Linked DNA regions of Homo sapiens. The protein of the gene in region 3 purifies or fractionates together with the protein of the main gene of each other region. This does not show direct contact. Each region holds a gene or a part of one and is shown on either strand. Other genes may lie near its edges. The genes, in order: EIF2A, CALU, DUS3L, SERPINE2 and BCAT1.

Evidence for each region.
Region 1: the proteins of DUS3L (region 3) and EIF2A fractionate together in Homo sapiens (co-fractionation; one large-scale study listed by BioGRID). This does not show direct contact.
Region 2: the proteins of DUS3L (region 3) and CALU fractionate together in Homo sapiens (co-fractionation; one large-scale study listed by BioGRID). This does not show direct contact.
Region 4: the proteins of DUS3L (region 3) and SERPINE2 fractionate together in Homo sapiens (co-fractionation; one large-scale study listed by BioGRID). This does not show direct contact.
Region 5: the proteins of DUS3L (region 3) and BCAT1 fractionate together in Homo sapiens (co-fractionation; one large-scale study listed by BioGRID). This does not show direct contact.

Annotation. Positions count from the first base shown.
Region 1 is NC_000003.12:150,574,268-150,577,821, reverse strand, and holds part of EIF2A (eukaryotic translation initiation factor 2A), read right to left. Parts: intron 2,174-3,554; coding exon 2,060-2,173; intron 1-2,059. UniProt on the Homo sapiens protein: Functions in the early steps of protein synthesis of a small number of specific mRNAs. Acts by directing the binding of methionyl-tRNAi to 40S ribosomal subunits.
Region 2 is NC_000007.14:128,759,836-128,763,389, forward strand, and holds part of CALU (calumenin isoform a precursor), read left to right. Parts: coding exon 1-17; intron 18-3,554. UniProt on the Homo sapiens protein: Involved in regulation of vitamin K-dependent carboxylation of multiple N-terminal glutamate residues. Seems to inhibit gamma-carboxylase GGCX. Binds 7 calcium ions with a low affinity.
Region 3 is NC_000019.10:5,784,640-5,788,217, forward strand, and holds the end of DUS3L (tRNA-dihydrouridine(47) synthase [NAD(P)(+)]-like), read right to left. Parts: intron 3,538-3,578; coding exon 3,385-3,537; intron 3,067-3,384; coding exon 2,950-3,066; intron 2,723-2,949; coding exon 2,657-2,722; intron 2,533-2,656; coding exon 2,422-2,532; intron 2,281-2,421; exon of another isoform or gene 2,207-2,280; coding exon 2,110-2,206; intron 1,904-2,109; coding exon 1,828-1,903; intron 1,153-1,827; coding exon 964-1,152; intron 873-963; coding exon 744-872; intron 637-743; coding exon 564-636; 3' UTR 501-563; downstream 1-500. Other genes in the region: PRR22 (proline-rich protein 22), read right to left, coding at 1-21. UniProt on the Homo sapiens protein: Catalyzes the synthesis of dihydrouridine, a modified base, in various RNAs, such as tRNAs, mRNAs and some long non-coding RNAs (lncRNAs). Mainly modifies the uridine in position 47 (U47) in the D-loop of most cytoplasmic tRNAs.
Region 4 is NC_000002.12:223,980,235-223,983,788, forward strand, and holds part of SERPINE2 (glia-derived nexin isoform b precursor), read right to left. Parts: intron 2,548-3,554; coding exon 2,447-2,547; intron 167-2,446; coding exon of another isoform or gene 164-166; coding exon 77-163; intron 1-76. UniProt on the Homo sapiens protein: Serine protease inhibitor with activity toward thrombin, trypsin, and urokinase. Promotes neurite extension by inhibiting thrombin. Binds heparin.
Region 5 is NC_000012.12:24,942,560-24,946,113, reverse strand, and holds part of BCAT1 (branched-chain-amino-acid aminotransferase, cytosolic), read left to right. Parts: intron 1-3,554.

The DNA.
Region 1 (3,554 bases), on a different chromosome or scaffold from region 3:
CCTCCCAAAACACATAACCAGCCTAGACCTGTCAAAATTCAAGAATTATCAGCAAGACTATACTGATATAGCAACCAGCTGTTAAAAATCTGCCCTTTCTAGGATGGGCACAGTGGCTCACGCCTGTAATCCAAGCACTTTGGGAGGCTGAGGTGGAAAGACTGCTTGAGCTCAGGAGTTTGCGACTAGCCTGGGCAACATGGCAAAACTCGGTCTCAAAAAAAAAAACCAAGCCAAAACCAAACCAAAAAAACCTACTCCCATTTCCTGCTTGAAAAACATAGCGATAACCTATCTTTACAAAAATAAAAAAATTAGTTGGGAATGGTGGTGTACATGTACAGTCCTAGTTACTTGGGAAGCTGAGGCAGGATTAGTTGAGCTCAGGGTCTGGGGTTGCAGTGAGCCGTGATCATGCCTCTGCACTCCAGCCTAGATAACAGAGTGAGACAGAGTGTCTCAAAAGAAACAAAAACAAAACATCCAAAAACCCTACCCCACTGCTACAGTCTGACATATTGGTGTTTCCCTCAAATTCATAGTTTGGGACCTAATACCCAATGTAATAGTATTAAAAGGTGGGGCATTTGGAAAATGATTAAGTCATGAGGATTCCACACTCAAGAATGAGATTAGTAGCTTTATAAAAGAGACCAAAGAGAGCTCCACTGCCCCTTCCACCATGGGAGGACACACAGAAAGAAGGTGCCATCTATGATGAACGGGTTCTCACCAGATACCAAATCTGCCAGCGCCCCAGCTTCTAGAACTGTGAGCAATAAATTTGTTTATGAATTACCTAGTATAAGGTAGCAGCCTGAATGGATTGAGACATGTACTCTACCTGAATTGCAAAAATGTGATCACCATAACTTCACTAACCAGACATCCCCAGCCCAGCCAATCACATTATCACCATGAGCTATACAATATCACAATTTGTCAATTATTTACACTGGTGTGGCTTTTCAACTACGTAATCAAGTAAGAAACTATTTTGGAAATATCCCATTATTTGGGTACTTCTGGTATTTCGATTCCCAGTTAAATAATTTCATATAGTACTATAATACTGAGTGCCCAAATGGCTTTCTAGTCATGTAATTTCCAGCTTCTCTTAGTAAATACATGCTTCAAGGAAAGCAAACTACACCACTTCACACAAGTGCCACCAAAAGGGTCTACAGCAAGTAACATGCTTACATAATACCATTAGTGTCTCAGGTTATGATGTCAAGTCCAGTTTCTTTTGTCACCCATCATATAGACAGGATTACTTAGAAATTCATAGGCAAAGACAAAAGAAAGATATTCTGCCTATTTAAGTCTAACTCCAACTACATTTTATAACGTAAGAGCCAAGGTTTTTTGTGCTTTTTTTCTTTTTTTTTCGAGTCATGGTCTTGCTCTGTTACTCAGGCTGAAGTGGTACAATCACAGCTCACTGCAGCCTCAACCTCCCAAGCTCAAGTGATCCTACCATCTCAGCTTCCCAAGCAGCTGGGACTACGGGGTACACGCCATTGTGCCCAGCAAAAAATTTTTCATAGAGATGGGGGTCTCACTATGTTGCCCAGGCTGGTCTCGAACTGGGCTCAAGCAATTCTCCCACGTTGGCCTCCCAAAGTGCTGGGTTACAGGCATGAGCCACCACACCTGGTCACAGTCAAGTATTTAGGACCACAATTCTTTAAACTTTAAGGCTTAAAGCTAACTTAACTGCCTTTTTTTTTGGAGATGGAGTCTCTCTCTGTCGCACAGGCTGGAAGGCTAGAGTGCAGTGATGCGATCATGGCTCACTGCAACCTCCACCTCCCAGGTTCAAGTAATTCTCCTGCCTCAGCCTCCTGAGTAGCTGAGATTATAAGCCATGGCCAACTAATTTTTGAATTTTTAGTAGAGACAGGGTTTCACCACGTTGGCCAGTCTGGTCTTGAACTTCTAACCTCAAGTGATCCACTCGCCTCAGCCTCCCAAAGTGCTGGGATTACGGGCGTGAGCCACTGCGCCCGGCCATAACTGACTATTTGTTTTGTTATGAGATTAGTGCCCCAAATACCTGCTTTGCAGCTTTCTTAGCTTCATGCTTCCTTTGATTTTTAAGAGCTGTTTTTGATAATGGCTTATCGTTTCCTGATTGTGGTTTCATATTCTGAGGTGGTTCCTCTTCATGCTATGGAAAATGTAAAATAATTTTGAAATGGAGTCCATGTTGTAAACACCTACAACAACAAATTATACACTTCTGCTAATATAGGATAAACTTATTTTATCAAATTTAAGATCATTAGCAAAGATTATTTTGAAACTCATTGGTAGTGGCACACTCCAACTGTCAGGATGGATTTAATTAGGGTCTTCCTATTAGTTCCTATATCTTTCAATCATATCAGAGCTGGCAAAATTCACTTTAGTTTTGTTCAAACAGAATTTTTCTTAGCACTACTACAGACACATGATTCTTATGAAAACTAGATACCAACAACAGCTTCTTCTGAGGCCTTTTTGGTTCTAACTATTGTCAACAGAAACCCAGTTGCCTCGCTTGTTTTCTTCACACAAAGAATTACTTGCTAGATCTTTACTTGTAAAATCAGAAATTAGAAGATTAAAAATAAAAGCAAATGAAAAAACAAGAATAGATTATAAGAAAATAAATGAAATAGAAAGGAGTAATTAACTAGATAATTACAAATCTGGGATTGACATATGAAGAGACCAAAAAAAAATTACATGGCTTGTCAGATTACACAATGAAGACAATCATTTCCAACATCAGATATTCATGTAACCATGTAACAACTATATTCCACAATAGAAAAGATGGTGAATTATAGATTCAATGTATCTCCAGAACAGTTTTAGACAACATACAGTATAAGTGATGGCACTACAACTCTCTATCAGATTCAGGTACTTACTGATTTCTATCTATATTGCTATTATTTTAATGTTAACTGTCTCTTAGACTGTACCATAACTCAGCACATCAAAAGTACCAGCTCTCCATGAAGTTTCTTGAGTACTAGGTCTCAGATCCGCATTTTACTTATAAGTTCTATATGGAAATGAGCAGAGCTCAAACACTTAAGATGCAGAGTAATAAATAAGAAACCATAAAGTGACCTTATCTTAGCAAATGCATTAACTATTTCAGGTCATCAAAGTTCTGGGTATGTTCATATTCTACTTGAAACAAACTGAATATTATGAGAACCCACATTTGTAGAACAGCAGACAAATTTGGAGTGCAAGGCTCTTTCATTTCATTTTTATCCATGTTGCATAAAATGCTACTTAAGTTATACAATATTTGCTGAACATTTGTTTTATACATAATATGAAAATTCTTTCAATAGTGGGCTCTTCTGTAGTAGTTTACTTTGGCCGAAAAGTTTCTGCTCAGAACTTTGATGAAAAATGATACAAGAAGAAAAGATAAGTTACAAGTCTCTTCCACGCTTATGAGCATCATGTAGCCACTGAGAGCCTTTCACTTGAGACGAAAAAAATCCACACAACTACTATAAATCATGAGTTTTTTCTGGTTTTGG
Region 2 (3,554 bases), on a different chromosome or scaffold from region 3:
TCTAGAAGAGTATATTGGTAAGTCTCTGCTTTTAGTGTTTTTCTTAGAAAAGCTGAGAAGCTTTGAAAGGTGTATTTGCTGGCTGGGCACAGTGGCTCATGCCTGTAATCCCAACACTGGGAGGCCGAGGCGGGCAGATCACCTGAGGTCAGGAGTCCAAGTCCAGCCTGGCCAACATGGGGAAACCCCGTCTCTACTAAAAATACAAAAAAATTAGTTGGGTGTGGTGGCGGGCGCCTGTAATCCCAGCTACTCAGGAGGCTGAGGCAGAAGAATCGCTTGAACCCAGGAGGCGGAGGTTGCAGTGAGCCGAGAACACGCCATTGCACTCCAGCCTGGGCAACAAGAGTGAAACTGTCTCAAAAAAAGAAAGAAAGAAAGATGTATTTGCCCATAGAAACAATTTACTCCAAGGGTCAATTCTCACTAGCTCATTAGCTGTCACCAGATCATTAACCAGACCAGTGTGATAGTGGGTTGTGATAAAGTATCCGTAGCCACATTGCCCAATCAAAATATAAATGTGAGCCCCATATGTAATTTTAACTTTTCTAATAGCCACATTAAAAAGTAAAAAGAAACAGATGAAATTTCAGTAGTTATTTAACCTAATATTCTAAAACTCTATAATTTCCACTTAATGTAAATTATTGAGGGTTTTTTTTTAATACTTAAAGCACATCCCAGCCACATTTCAAGTGCTTAATAAGCACCTGTGGCTACCATCCTCAACAGCACAGATATAGTGTATCCTGCATGCTCTATGGAACTGATGGTAAAGAGTTGCAGGGGGCTGGGCACGGTGGCTCACGCCTGTAATCCCAGCACTTTGGGAGGCCGAGGCGGGCGGATCACAAGGTCAGGAGATCGAGACCATCCTGGCTAACACAGTGAAACCCTGTCTCTACTAAAAATACAAAAAATTAGCCGGGTGTAGTGGCAGGCGCCTGTAGTCCCAGCTACTGGGGACGCTGAGGCAGGAGAATGGCATGAACCCAGGAGGCAGAGCTTGCAGTAAGCTGAGATCATGCCACTGCACTCCAGCCGGGGCTACAGAGCGAGACTCCGTCTCAAACAAACAAACAAAAAAAAGAGTTGCAGGGAGCCCAGACTGACATAGGGAAACCCAGGGAAAGGAGATAGGGAATAGATTAAAAGATGGATAAATAAATGACGGGGAGTTGCTGATCCCTCTTGTAGCCATTCCTTTTTACTGTGTTCTGTTCATATTTTCTCTCTGATTCTCTGACTACTTTCCTTTTGTTTTTTAAGTTTCTCCCTTTTGACATTTCCCTTTTTAGTTGTCTAAATTTTTTTAAAAAAATTGTTTTGGATGTCACACCTTCAAGGCTAATTTCTCCCAAGTAAAGCTCTGTTTTATTATCATCAGACTAATTTTAAGATATTCTCATTGCTTTAAAAAAAAAAAGCTGTCTTTCTTACCAAGTAGTTGAGCAAATTGTTTCCCAATTACTGTGACAGAAATTAAAATGAGTAAAGGAGCTGGGTGTGGTGGCATACCCGGTTACTTGGGAGGCTGAGGCAGGAGGATCACTTGAGTCCAAGAGTCTGGACTATAGTCACAAGTTCATCATCAATATGGTGACCTCCTGGGAGCAGAGGATCACCAGGTTGCCTAAGGAGGAGTGAACCGGCCCGGGACAGAATCAGAGCAGGTCAAAACTGTGCTGATTAGTAGTGAGGTTGTGCCTGTGGATAGCAATTGTACTCCAACCTGAGCAACATAGCGAGACTCCATCTCTTTAGAAAAGTGAGTAAAGATGGAAAGTATAAGACTGTTACTACAAATGTCATTGTTACAAATACTTTGTTTAGAAAGATATTAGATATTTTAATATTTCACATACTTATTGTCATTTGTAATAACTTATTCTAGCACACCATTGGTTTTGTGTTTCAGATAAGCCCGTTTGTTTTTAGACCTCTGATAGTTACCTGAAATGTTTATTTGAAGCCTGAAAGGAAGACTTAATCCTTACCTCTATCACCTGTCATTAAACTGTATGGAGCAAGTCACTGCTTTACTTAGATGTTGTCTTATCATACCTGTTGTTTACATGCTAGAGTTATTCCAATTGAATTACTCCTTGACTGTTTACCTCCCTTTTCTTAGGTTCAGTGGCATACTTTGAACTTTTTAAAGAAGGATGAGCAATGGAAGATAGGATGGATGTTTTCCTAAACTGATTTTTTTTTTTTTTGGAGAAGTTTATCAGGACAGTGGATAAGTGCCTAGGTGCATTTACTGAGCCCACGTTGATGTTACTAGGGTTTTCTACTTTTAAATGATTTATCTTTTTATTCTTGGCTTTTGCCATTTTATTGCCATTGCTAAAACTGAGGAACTCATTTGAACCTCCCAAGGAGAGGAATTTTTATAACTGTTAACTACATCACTTATCAAGCATTGAGGCCAAATAAGGAGATATTTCTGTCTCCCTGTGTATCATATAGATTCAAGGGCAGAGGAGTTATATTTTGAAGCTACCAAAACTATCTTGTGCATGTGTGCTTTTTTTTTTTTTTTTTACAAGTCAGTAACTAATGCAAACACTTTTACATCTGGGATGCTGGGCTTTGTAAATCTAAAATTCTCCCAAACAGTATCTTTCAGCTTCTAGTGCCCTGTTGAAGGAGATCATGAAGAAACAAAGTTCTTCGCCTCATAAATTTAGCATTAAAAAGAAGCCCCATCAGTGCCTGTGGAAACATAGGGAAAGAAAAAAAAAAACACCCAAAGTTGTGCTGATAATTATTTTTATTTTTAAAATTTATTATAGAGCATTGCAGACGTACACAACTTATTTGTTTATTTATTTATGTTTTTTTTGAGACAGTCTTGCTCTGTCACCCAGGCTGGAGTGCAGTGGCGTGATCTCCACTCACTACAATCTCTGCCTCCCAGGTTCAGGCGATTCTTGTGCCTCAGCCTCCTGAGTAGTTGGGATTACAGGCATGCACCACCACACCTGGCTAATTTTTGTATTTTTAATAGAGGCGGGGTTTCACCATGTTGGCCAGGGTGATCTTGAACTCCTGGCCTCAAGTGATCTGACCACCTTAGCCTCCCAAAGTGCTGGGATTACAAGTGTGAGCCACTGCACCTGCCCCCAAATTAGAATAGTATAATGAATCCCCATGTACCTATGCCTAACCTCAACAACAATCAACTTACAGCCAGTTTTTTCTCAGCCACATCCACTTCCTTGCTTCCTTCTTACTTTGAAGTAAATCCCAATCATTATGTCATTTCATCTGTAAACATTGAGGTATATATGTCTAAAATATATATGTGTTTCTAAAAACATTTTTTTAAAGATAATGTCAACCCAAGAAAATTAATAATACCTTCAAATCATCAAATAGACTGAGTCTTTTAAAAATAGAAATTCGGCCGAGCATGGTGGCTCATGCCTGTAATCCCAACACTTTGGGAGGCTGAGGTGGGCGGATCACAAGGTCAGGAGTTAGACACCAGCCTGACCAACCTGGTGAAACCCCGTCTCTACTAAAAATATAAAAATTAGCCAGGT
Region 3 (3,578 bases):
GAACGGTTTGGGGTGCTGCATGGGGCAGCGGGGGGCCCGGTCCAGACAGGCCAGGAGGGCGGCAGTGGGAGTGCAAGTGGCCCAACCGGAGAACAGGCTGAGAACCTGGTGGGGTTCTGTTTGCCTGGTTACTCGGGGCAGCGGGTTCCAGCCTGCAGCGCGCCCACTGGTTGGGGTTCTGGGTGTTGGGGGCAAGCAGGGGCAGACGTTGGCAGACATGGTCATCACCATGGGAGGGAGGATTCTGGGCCAGGCCTTTGCCTCTTCCAGCAACACCCCCCTAACAGCTTTGAGGCCGCCTCCTCCAGGCAGGCTGCCCTGATCCACACCCACACAGGCTGAGGCCCCCCGGGTCCTCAACCCGCTACCTTCTTGGGGGTCAAGGCCTCTCTGGGCACCAGCAGCACCCAGCTTGGGGCAGGGCCCATGGAGGCAGCTAAGAGGTTTGGGGAAGGTGGGGGCCGAGGAGGGGCTGCTTCAGGGTCACAGAAAGGCCTGGATTTTAAAAGAATAAAATTTATTGTACTCTCCTCGCCCCAGGGTGCCCCTGGGAAAGCCTGAGGCTACTTGTACGCGTTGGCCTTGTGCTTCGGCAAGAAGGCGAAGCTGGGGGGCACTGGCCCAAGGAGCATCTCGCTGTGGGAGAGCAGGTGGAAAGCGAGGTCAGGCCCAGGACCTGCAAAGTACCCTCCGTGACCCCGGGCCCCCGACTGCAGCTCCCCAACTCCAGCCCACCCAGGCACCTGATGCGGATCCAGTCGGCTGCCTTCTGGCTGGCCATCAGCGTCTCCAGGTAGTCGCGGCCCAGGTAGTAGGGCGGCCGCTCGTTGATCCTCTGTGGGAGCCGCTCCAGCAGCCCCACGGGCACGTACCTGCGGCGGGTGGGCGGGCAGGACAGGCTTGAGTCAGCTCTAACCAGCCGCGGCCCACGCGCCGCCCACCCCAGCCAGCCCCGGTGCCCACCGGCACAGGAAGGACAGCCACTCGAGCAGAAAGCGCCGGGTCTTCTCCACGCCCTGCGTGTCCGAGCCCCAGTGCTCCAGGCCGTAGTTGGTGAAGTCCCGCAGGATGTCCAGGCGCTCGGACGACGAGATGTCCCAGTGCCGCTGCTCCTTGATCTCCGTGAAGAGCCACGGCTTGAGCAGGGCGCCACTGTGGGACGGGTGACGATCAGTGGGCCCAGCCACCAGCCTGCCTGGGATCGTGTGGCCTCTGCTTCCATGGCCTGGCCTGAGCCGGAGCCCAGACCACAAAACCTACAAGCCTAGTAAGCCTCCCAGCTGCATGCACACAACCTTCAAAGCACAGGACTTTCTTTTGTTTTTTCTGAGACGGAGTCTGGCTCTGTCGCCCAGGCTGGGGTGCAGTGGTAAGATCTCGGCTCACTGTTCAACCTCCGTCTCCCAGGTTCAGGCAATTGTCCTGCCTCAGCCTCCCTAGTAGTTGGGATTACAGGCGTGTACCACTACACCTGGCTAATTTTTGTATTTTTAATAGAGATGTTTCACCATGTTGGTCAGGCTAGTCTTGAACCTCCGACCTCAAATGATCGGCGTGCCTTGGCCTCCCAAAGTGCTGGGATTACAGGCGTGAGCCACACACCTGGCCAAAGCCCAGGACTTTCAACCCACAATCATCAGATCCCACAGCAGCAGCAATTTCCAGTCCCCTCTGCCGCAACGCAGCTGCAACTCCTGACATCGCTCTCTGCTCCTCCCATCTTGGGACCAACAGCCCACCACAGAACAGGGGTGGGTGACGGCGTGTTGGGTTCAGGGCACTGCTGCTGTGCATGAAGCTGGATCTCTAACATCCCTGGGCACTTACCGGGCAATCATGATCCCGGTGACACCAGTCTGCATGGCGCGGTTGGCATCCTCAAATGACAAGATGTCCCCATTTCCTGAGGAGACAGAGGCTGGGGTCTCAGGGAGACATGGGCAGGTGGGACCCTGGAGTTCTGCTCACCAGCCCTTCAGGAGTTTTGGCTGACCCAGTGGCTCCCATCAGGGTGGTACGAGGGGGTCCCAAGTGGGAAGGCGAACAGCCCAGAGGTGTGAGTGACCAAGGGTGGTAGGGGAGAGGGAGGTGGCTTCCCGGAACACCCACCGAACAGGGGCATGGGGCTGGCGGCCTGCACGCACTCCTCGATGTACTGCCAGTCGGCTAGCTTGGTGTAGCGCTGCTCCCGAGAGCGGCCGTGGAGCTGGGGGAGAAGCCGCCACGCAGGGTAGGAGGCAGAGAGTGAGACGCAGAGAGGAAGAGACCAAGAGAGCCAGGCTGAGAGAGACAGAGAGAGACACAGGCGGAGACAGAGGGAGGTGTGGAGGTGAAGAGGGAGGGATGGGAGGAGAGGAGCCATTAGGAAGGGACGCGGGGTCGACCGCGAGGCCCCAATGCCCGAGGCGTCCCAAGACCCACCGTGACGAGTGCCACGCCCCAGTCCCGCAGCTCGGGCAGCAGGCGGTGCGCCAGGTTCACACGCTCCTGGACGCCTGTGCGGATCTTCACAGTCAGCGGCACATCCAGCACCTACAGGACGGTGGTGGGAGGTGGTGGGAGATGGTGGGAGGTGGTGGGAGACGGTGGGAGGTGGTGGGAGACAGGGCCCGGGGGAGTTGTTTGGGAGCCAGTGCGAGGATGTGGCTGGCCGTACCTGGTTCATGCCACGGACGATCTGCTGGAACTTGGTGGAGCGATTCATGAGGGCACAGCCCCCACCCTGGAAGAGACAGGCGGGTGGAGGGAGGGCAGGACGTGGGCTGACCCAAGACCCCTCACCCCTGCTGCCCGGAGGCCCCCACCAGGAGACGCCGACCTGCAGGAAAGGCAGGGACTCCAGGGCCACACTTGAGCCCAAACCCCTGACCCTCCACCGAGACATCGCCGGCTGGGTCAGTGCCTCCCTGCCCAGATGGGGAAACCGAGGCACACGTCCAGGGCCGCTACCTTCTTGTACACGAGGTCGATGGGGCAGCCGACGTTGATGTCCACAAAGTCCACCTCCACGGTGCGGCTCAGCAGCTCGGCACACTTGGTCATGGTGTCGGGGAAGGCGCCCTCCAGCTGTAGGTGGGTAGTGGCAGAACAGGAGGGTGAGGGGAGAGTCCGAACTGTCCCCACTTGGCCGTTCCCTCCCCACTGGGGGGCCCTGAGCCAGTGGCCTCCTCTCTCGGGGCCTCCCCGGAAGGAGCCAAGGTCTGTCTGCGAGGCACCGGTCCCCGGCCACGGCCATCAGCCCCCAGAGGTGGATCAGGGCATCACCCCCACTCCACAGCTGAGGCCAGGGGGTCAGGGAGGCAACCAGGGCAGACCTGGAACCTGGCTCTGAGACAGGACGGCCGAGGGCCCCTCCACTCTCCCTCCCTCGGGGTGGGCACTGACCTGGACGCCAAAGATGTCCTCACACTGGTGGCGTTTGAGTAGGGCCCACTCGGACATCTGGCCCTGCAGCAGGTTGGTGCAGACGGCCATCTCTCCACATGTCACATCCGCCCCGAAGCGCTTGCAGATCCGTCGGAAGGGCAGGTTCCCACACTGCGGGGGGAGCAGGACAGACACACATGCTCTTGCACGCG
Region 4 (3,554 bases), on a different chromosome or scaffold from region 3:
TGCTCAACCAATGAGTATACAGGAATGTGTTTGCTCCCCTGCTAGAGGAAGCCCTGCCACGTGACCCAGTGCTTACTTGTTGCTGCTGAAGCTTTGGTTCCATCTTCACTGACTTCAATTTTTGCTTTTTGCAAGATATGAGAAACATGGAGGTTTTCTGACCCTGCTTCCAGAAAATAAAACAGTATCAGCATTTGTTTGATAGGCAGGCCATTGGTTGGTTGGGGAAGTAACCTCAAAGCTCAAAGCCATGGCAAATTCCAATTTTTAAAGTGTCAGAAGACATGACCTCTGACAGTCCTGGTGTTGAAGGCTGCAGACAGCTGTTACTTGTGAATTTCAGTCCCTGCTAAGTGAACTGTGATACTCACTTCTGGAGAAGGGCCCAGGCCCTCAAATGATTTAGTGCCTCTATCAATTCAATTCTGATCACTAGAATTGTTTTTTAAAAATGAAAAGAGCAGAGCTTTAAAAAGGAAGCCCGGTTTTCTGGAAGCAGCAAGGCAACAAGATTATTTTTCAGTTACAGAATGCAGATGCAGAAGGGATTTCAGACAGCATTTACAGATGGGGAAACTGAGGCCTAGAACGTTAAGTAATGTTCCCTGCAATCATACGGCTAGTTAGTGGCAGAGTAAGTCCTGGCTCTTCACAACAGCCACTCATCTCATGGGCATGCTAGTAAGAGAAGAGTGTCGAACAAGAGAAGAGTTTAGATTTTCCTGGAAGGGCCGATGTGTAAATGCAGTTGTGCCTCAGGGACATTCTGGTGAACTCACTTTACTTCTCAGCAAATTCTGACCATTCCAGCAACACCCACTGGGTGTAGCTTTCACAGAGAATGAAAAACTTAAGTTGATATTAGTCTGGATGGGACATAGGTCTGGATGCAAAGGGAAAATGTGCTTTTTGTGTCATCTGCTTGTGAACTATCTGCACCAATGCCCAGCTCTAATATGACCAAATTGTGACTGAGATGCACATTTATAGGGCCCAAGTCACATGCAGTGTTAAAGAGGACTTTCCAGGAGAATCTGGGGCACCTGGTTCTTCCTGTGAACACCCCCCATTTAGTATTTCAGCTACCATGAACAACCTTGAAGGGAAAAGTGCAGATGAAAATGGTGCTTCTCAGTCTTTGCTGGGCTGAGGGACTGTGTTAAAATGGATTCTGGTTCAGTGGGTCTGGGTTACACCCAAGATTGTGCATTTCAAACAAGCTCCTGGGTGATGCTAATGCTGCTGGGCTGGAGGCCTGAGTTTGAGTCATGAGGGATGAACGGCTATCAGAATATCCATGGAGCTGCAGGTTCACCAGGGGAGTCATGTTTGTCCCCAGAACAGGTACTAGGTGTTTACTAGCATGCAACTGAAGCTGGTAATGAGCTAATTTCTTACCACTCAAAGTTATTTGCAAACTGGAGTGCAAATAATGTTCAAGCCATGGCTTTTCCTTGGAAAGATTGCTATGTTCTAAATTTAAAGAACAAAGGACTGACCATTCAAACATAACTCTAGAAAAAGGTACATATACTGCTGGCAAATGAAAAGCATGCCTTAATTGCTTTGGCAAAGGAAAGTTTTAATCAGATTCATTTGAATTTATATCGTTTCATATTAATGAGCATGAAATGCCAAAATACATATCTGGGTACAGTGAATGACTGCAGTCTTGACTTTTTTTCAAGCAAAAGGAAAAAGTTGGCATTTGAAAACAGAGCGACAACACCTAAGTCAGAGCCAATATTCATAAAAGCAATACATGAAATACTCCTTTAGGTAGTCACTGGGGCTTCCCATGAAATGTACGTGCAAAATGTGGGGACGCTGATTTAAATGAAGGTCAAGAGCAATGACTAGATAAAGAAAATGAGGTATGTACACATCATGGAATACTACTCAGTCATAAAAAGAATGAAATAATATCTTTTGCAGCAACTTGAATGGAGCTGGAGGCCATTATTCTAAATGAAGTAACTCAAGAATGGAAAACCAAATACTGTATGTTCTCGCTTGTAAGTGGGAGATAAGCTACGGGTATGCAAAGGCATACGGAGTGGTATAATGGATTATGGAGACTCAGAAGGAGGAGGGTGGGTTGGTGAGGAGCTAAAAATCTATTAATACATATTGAGTACAACGTATACTACTCGGGGGAGGGGTGTACTAAAATCTCAGACTTCATCGCTATATAAACTGATCCATGTAACCAAAAACCACTTGTATCCCAAAAACTATTGAAATAAAAAGATAAAAGGAAAAAATAAATAAATGAAGGTCAATAAATAAACGAAGGCCAATAGCATAATTTGGCAATGTATCAAATGAAACCTTGTACAGTTTCAGGGCAACACATTCCTAATTCTGATCCTTTTTCTCTGCACAAATCAGTCTCAGTTTGTAACACTTTCTTCAAGTATACAAATACATTTTAAATTGAACATACTTGTTATTTTTGCAAAATTTGCCTTTGATGAATCAAACATGTCAGTAATGCCAAGAACTTTCAGCGGCTCCTTCAAATCTGTTTGTGCTACAGCTGTGAACCTAGCATGAAAGCAGAAATGGAGAAAAAAAATCACGAGGCTATAAATGCTACATGATAGAGTCGGTGCATGTTTACAAACTGATTCTTTTAAAGTTAATATCTGAATACCGATCTGAATTGCATCTTAAATTTGAATTCCAAATTTAAATACCAGATAAGTAAAGGACAACTCCTCTCTCAAACACTTAGCTGGCAAAATGAGTCATATGTACTAACGGCAAGAATAGGCGCTCCCACCCTCAGGTGTAATGGGCCCCCTGTTCCAATACTTAGGAAGATCTACAAACATACTTTCTTTTATACTGACGTGGAGGTTGAGTGTTAACAAGTTCCTAGTACTCTGGAATATCTATTATTCTTCCCCATATCCAACTAAAGTTCTCCATATCCATCTTGGCTGCTCTAAGACCTGCCATCCTTATTGGGATTGGAGATGGTCAAAAGAGAGGAGAAACATTCCTGATAGTTCATTTTGGGATTCTTTTTTTTGAGACAGAGTCTTGCTCTGTGGCCCAGGCCAGAGGACAATGGTGCAATCTTGGCTCACTGCAACCTCTGCCTCCTGGGTTCAAGCAATTCTCCCGCCTCAGCCTCCCAAGTAGTTGGGATTACAAGCACCCACGACCATGCCTGGCTAATTTTTTATATTTTTAGTAGAGACGGGGTTTTTCCATGTTGGCCAGGCTAGTCTGGAACTCCTGACCTCGTGATCCGCCCACCTCGGCCTCCCAAAGTGTTGGGATTACAGGTGTGAGCCACCACGCCCAGCCCCTTTTGAGATTCTGAAAGTATTTTACTATTAAAACAGGAGCAAAGATTAGGCATAGGTGACACGGTATTATATTTGGGTATAATATAGGTTTCTTGAATATTTGTGACCTACTTGGCCTTGGGGATATATGGAGATATATGCACACACACACACACACACACACGTATATATATGTGTGTATATGTGTGTGTGTGTGTGTGTGTGTGTGTGTAAATGTCAGTTACTGTCATCAGA
Region 5 (3,554 bases), on a different chromosome or scaffold from region 3:
TTTTGGGGTTTCAGGTTGCCAGCTTCTTTAAATGGCCTCTTCTCAACTGGTATAGGAAGTTGGAAAATAAAGAACTTTCTTTATTTCCCTTTAGTGTTGGTAACCACAGTTTCTTTAAATAACAGATGCCCACCCCAGGGAAACCCAGTGGCATGATCAGCCTTATGCTCAGGAAGGTTTGGTTGCTATACTGGAGAGTGAGAATCTGGGACCTTCCATGATAGACATAATTGTGCCAGCTATCCTCTACTTTCTATATGATGCTATCATTCTTTTTTCTTTTCTTTTTTTTGACAGAATCTCACTGTGTTGTTCAGGCTGGAGTGCCGCAGAGTGATCTCTACTCACTGCAACCTCTGCCTCCTAGGTTCAAGCAATTCTTGTGCCTCAGCCTCCTGAGAAGCTGGGATTACCACCATGCCCAGCTAATTTTCGTATTTTTTTGTAAAGACGGAGTTTTGCCATGTTGGCCAGGCTGGTCTGGAACTCCTGGCCTCAAGCGATCTGCCCATCTCGGCCTCCCAAAGTGCTGGGATTACAGGCATGTGCTATCATTCTTTTTGAGCACAGGAGGAAACTATGGCTGATCTGCTCATTTTACTGTCAAAAATATAGGCAGCTTTTGTATTGTAACATTATCCCCTTAACAGCTGTCCAACTGGTCTATACATTTCACCTAACATATGGTAAATGTTCCTACTGTTGGCCTTTCCTGAGCCTCTGTCCATTCAACTAAGGCCACTGCAATGGGATTGTATGCAGTTCAGCCAAGAAATAAATGTGAGGTGCAACTCACATTTTTTAAATGTTTCAAAATTAAGCATTTAGGTGCTTTTATTCATAAACATGACTTTGCAAATATTGGTAAACAGTTTCATCATAAGACCTTGTCAGTGACTCACAATGTCAATGGTGAACGCAAAGGAGAATCTGTCTTTTCTGGAACACCAGGTTCAGGTATCAGTTTCAACTATGCTTATAATTTGTGCTCTAAAGTCCACAAAGCTAAATTATCTTTCCCCTAAAAATTGAGTACTCATATCCTTAAAATAGCTTGGAAATTAGATTACCTTATGAATACAGCATAGCATGTCACATAAACGTTTTTCTACTGTTATACCTTTTTGGTGGGAAAGACTATTTTGCAAAACATTTTTCTTGTGTTCAGTAATTAATGGGAAAAACAAACTCTAAAAGAAAGAGACAGTTATGTCCCAAAAATACAGGAAAATGGAAGAATGGAAACAGGGAAGACCAATAAAGAAAAAAATAGAGGAAATTACAAGTAATAAACTGAAGTCATACTGAAAAACATATGGCTCTTTCTTATTGAAAGTTGTGAAATACTTGCAAAACTCAGCTAGTTCCATTAAGAATAGTCTTTAATCTAAAAAGAACAAATTCATTTGTCAGTTCTTTATTTCGGTGTGTAGATTTGAATGTTTCATCAATTGCATTTACGGTTTATCCCTCAGTGTGAGAACTGTTTTTGCTGTTTTGACTATAAATGGATATCTGCTTTAGGAAGACTTAGGAAGCCTGGGACATAGGATTACAGATCAAATTCTATTTGACTCCATAGAAGTTGAGACGGAAGGAGCACCTGTTGGGATATTCTAGACCAAACATTCCACAGCTGTCTCTTAACGTGACTGACAAAGAGACACAGTTGAGACGAAGTTTGGGTATATCCTGGGATGAGGCCAAGGGTGGATTTGCACAGGATGGTCACAGGGCAGTTGTTAGCATTCCACCACTACATAAAAGGGTGATTTTGCCAAGTGCATTTCATTTCATTTCAGTTGATTTAGATACCAAGTTATATTGTTTTGACTTTAGGACTAGATGTGAGTTCAGGAATTTGAAATCATAATAAATGTTTCCTTGAACTTTGAAGATAAAAGGTAGAGTTAAAAGACAGCTGCGAAGTCTACATGGGGAAGCATAATACATGACTCAGGGTTCCATGGTTTTCAGTGTCGGTGAGTGCTCTGTACACTTATAAGAATAGTGCTGGTGTTTATAGAAGAAACACATGCAGGTTTGAGGCAAGACTTCCTTGCTTAATTGGTGCTTTTGCTTTCCATTTTCTAAATGCCATGCAAACTACTTTTTTTTTTTTCTTTTGTTGAGACGGAGTCTTGCTCTGTCACCCAGGCTGGAGTACAGTGGTGCGATCTCGGCTCACTGCAAGCTCCGCCTCCTGGGTTCACGCCATTCTCCTGCCTCAGCTTCCTGAGTAGCTGGGACTACAGGCGCCCGCCACCACGCCCGGCTAATTTTTTGTATTTTTTGTAGAGACGGGGTTTCACCATGTTAGCCAGGAAGGTCTTGATCTCCTGACCTCGTGATCTGCCCGCCTCGGCCACCCAAGGTGCTGGGATTACAGGCGTGAGCCACCGCTCCCGGCCTCAAACTACTTTAACTGAAAACATTCTTCTAAGGAAAGCATCAGAAAACTTACTAGAATTGCTTAAGAATAAATAAATAATACAAATAAAAGAGCAAAATGAGAAAGTAGACAGACTCCTAGTCTATTGTGCTATTGATCTCTCCAGGTTCTAGGCTTTCTTGGGTCTGACACCACTTTGTAAATTTTTTTTTTTTTTTTTTTTTTTTTCCAGATAGGGTCTCATTCTGTCACCTAGGCTGGAGTGCAGTGGTACAATCATGGCTCACTTCAGCTTCAACCTCCTGGGCTCAAGTGATCTTCCTGCCTCAGCTCCCTGAGTAGCTGGGACCACAGGCATGTGCCACCACGCCCGGTGAATTTTTGTATTTTTTGTAGAGATGGGGTTTCTCCATGTTGCACTGGCTGGTCTTGAACTCCTGGGCTCCAGTGATCCACCCACCTTGGCCTCCAAAGTGCTGGGATTACAGGCATCCGTCACTGCACTGGGCCAGTTTGTAAATCTTATGAAAAGTATGGCCAATCTTTTGCAAAATGTGCAAACACATATAGACACAAAGTTTTATATCTAAATTATTGGTTATTAAAGCCAGGACAATAGAGTGCATATAGCATGGAAGACAGGTAGAAAAGACTGAAATGGTTTAGTTATTCAGAGCAGTGGAGGGCTATTGGCTCTTGCCTTTGCAGTCAGCTGAGATATGAAACTATATAAGCAGAAGCTTCACGCTGCCATTTGAATATTGAAAATCTCCACTTTTAGTTCAAGAGATAAACAACCAATGGTTTGTTTGTTCACAGCACATAAGTTATCACTTTCTTCTCTGTTTCATCCCATCAAGATCTAAGGTGTATAGTTACAGAATAGAACTCGGTTCATACCATATGCACCCTAATTTCTTCGATCTTCAACTAGTTTGGAAGTGTGTGTGGGTGTTTTCTTAGCCAAGGTTAATATGCAATTTCTTAGTGGAGTGTAGGAGTTTGGGGTGCCTAGCCTTCCTACTTCCCACTTAGATAACTTCCCCTACCTGTTGTACCTGTCAAAGGAGAAGGCCAGTATGGCCATGTTCTTTGCAGGTGACTCCACCTTAGCCACAGCTGATTGTAACAAGGGTGTATATTTGGCCCAAGTCCAGCCATC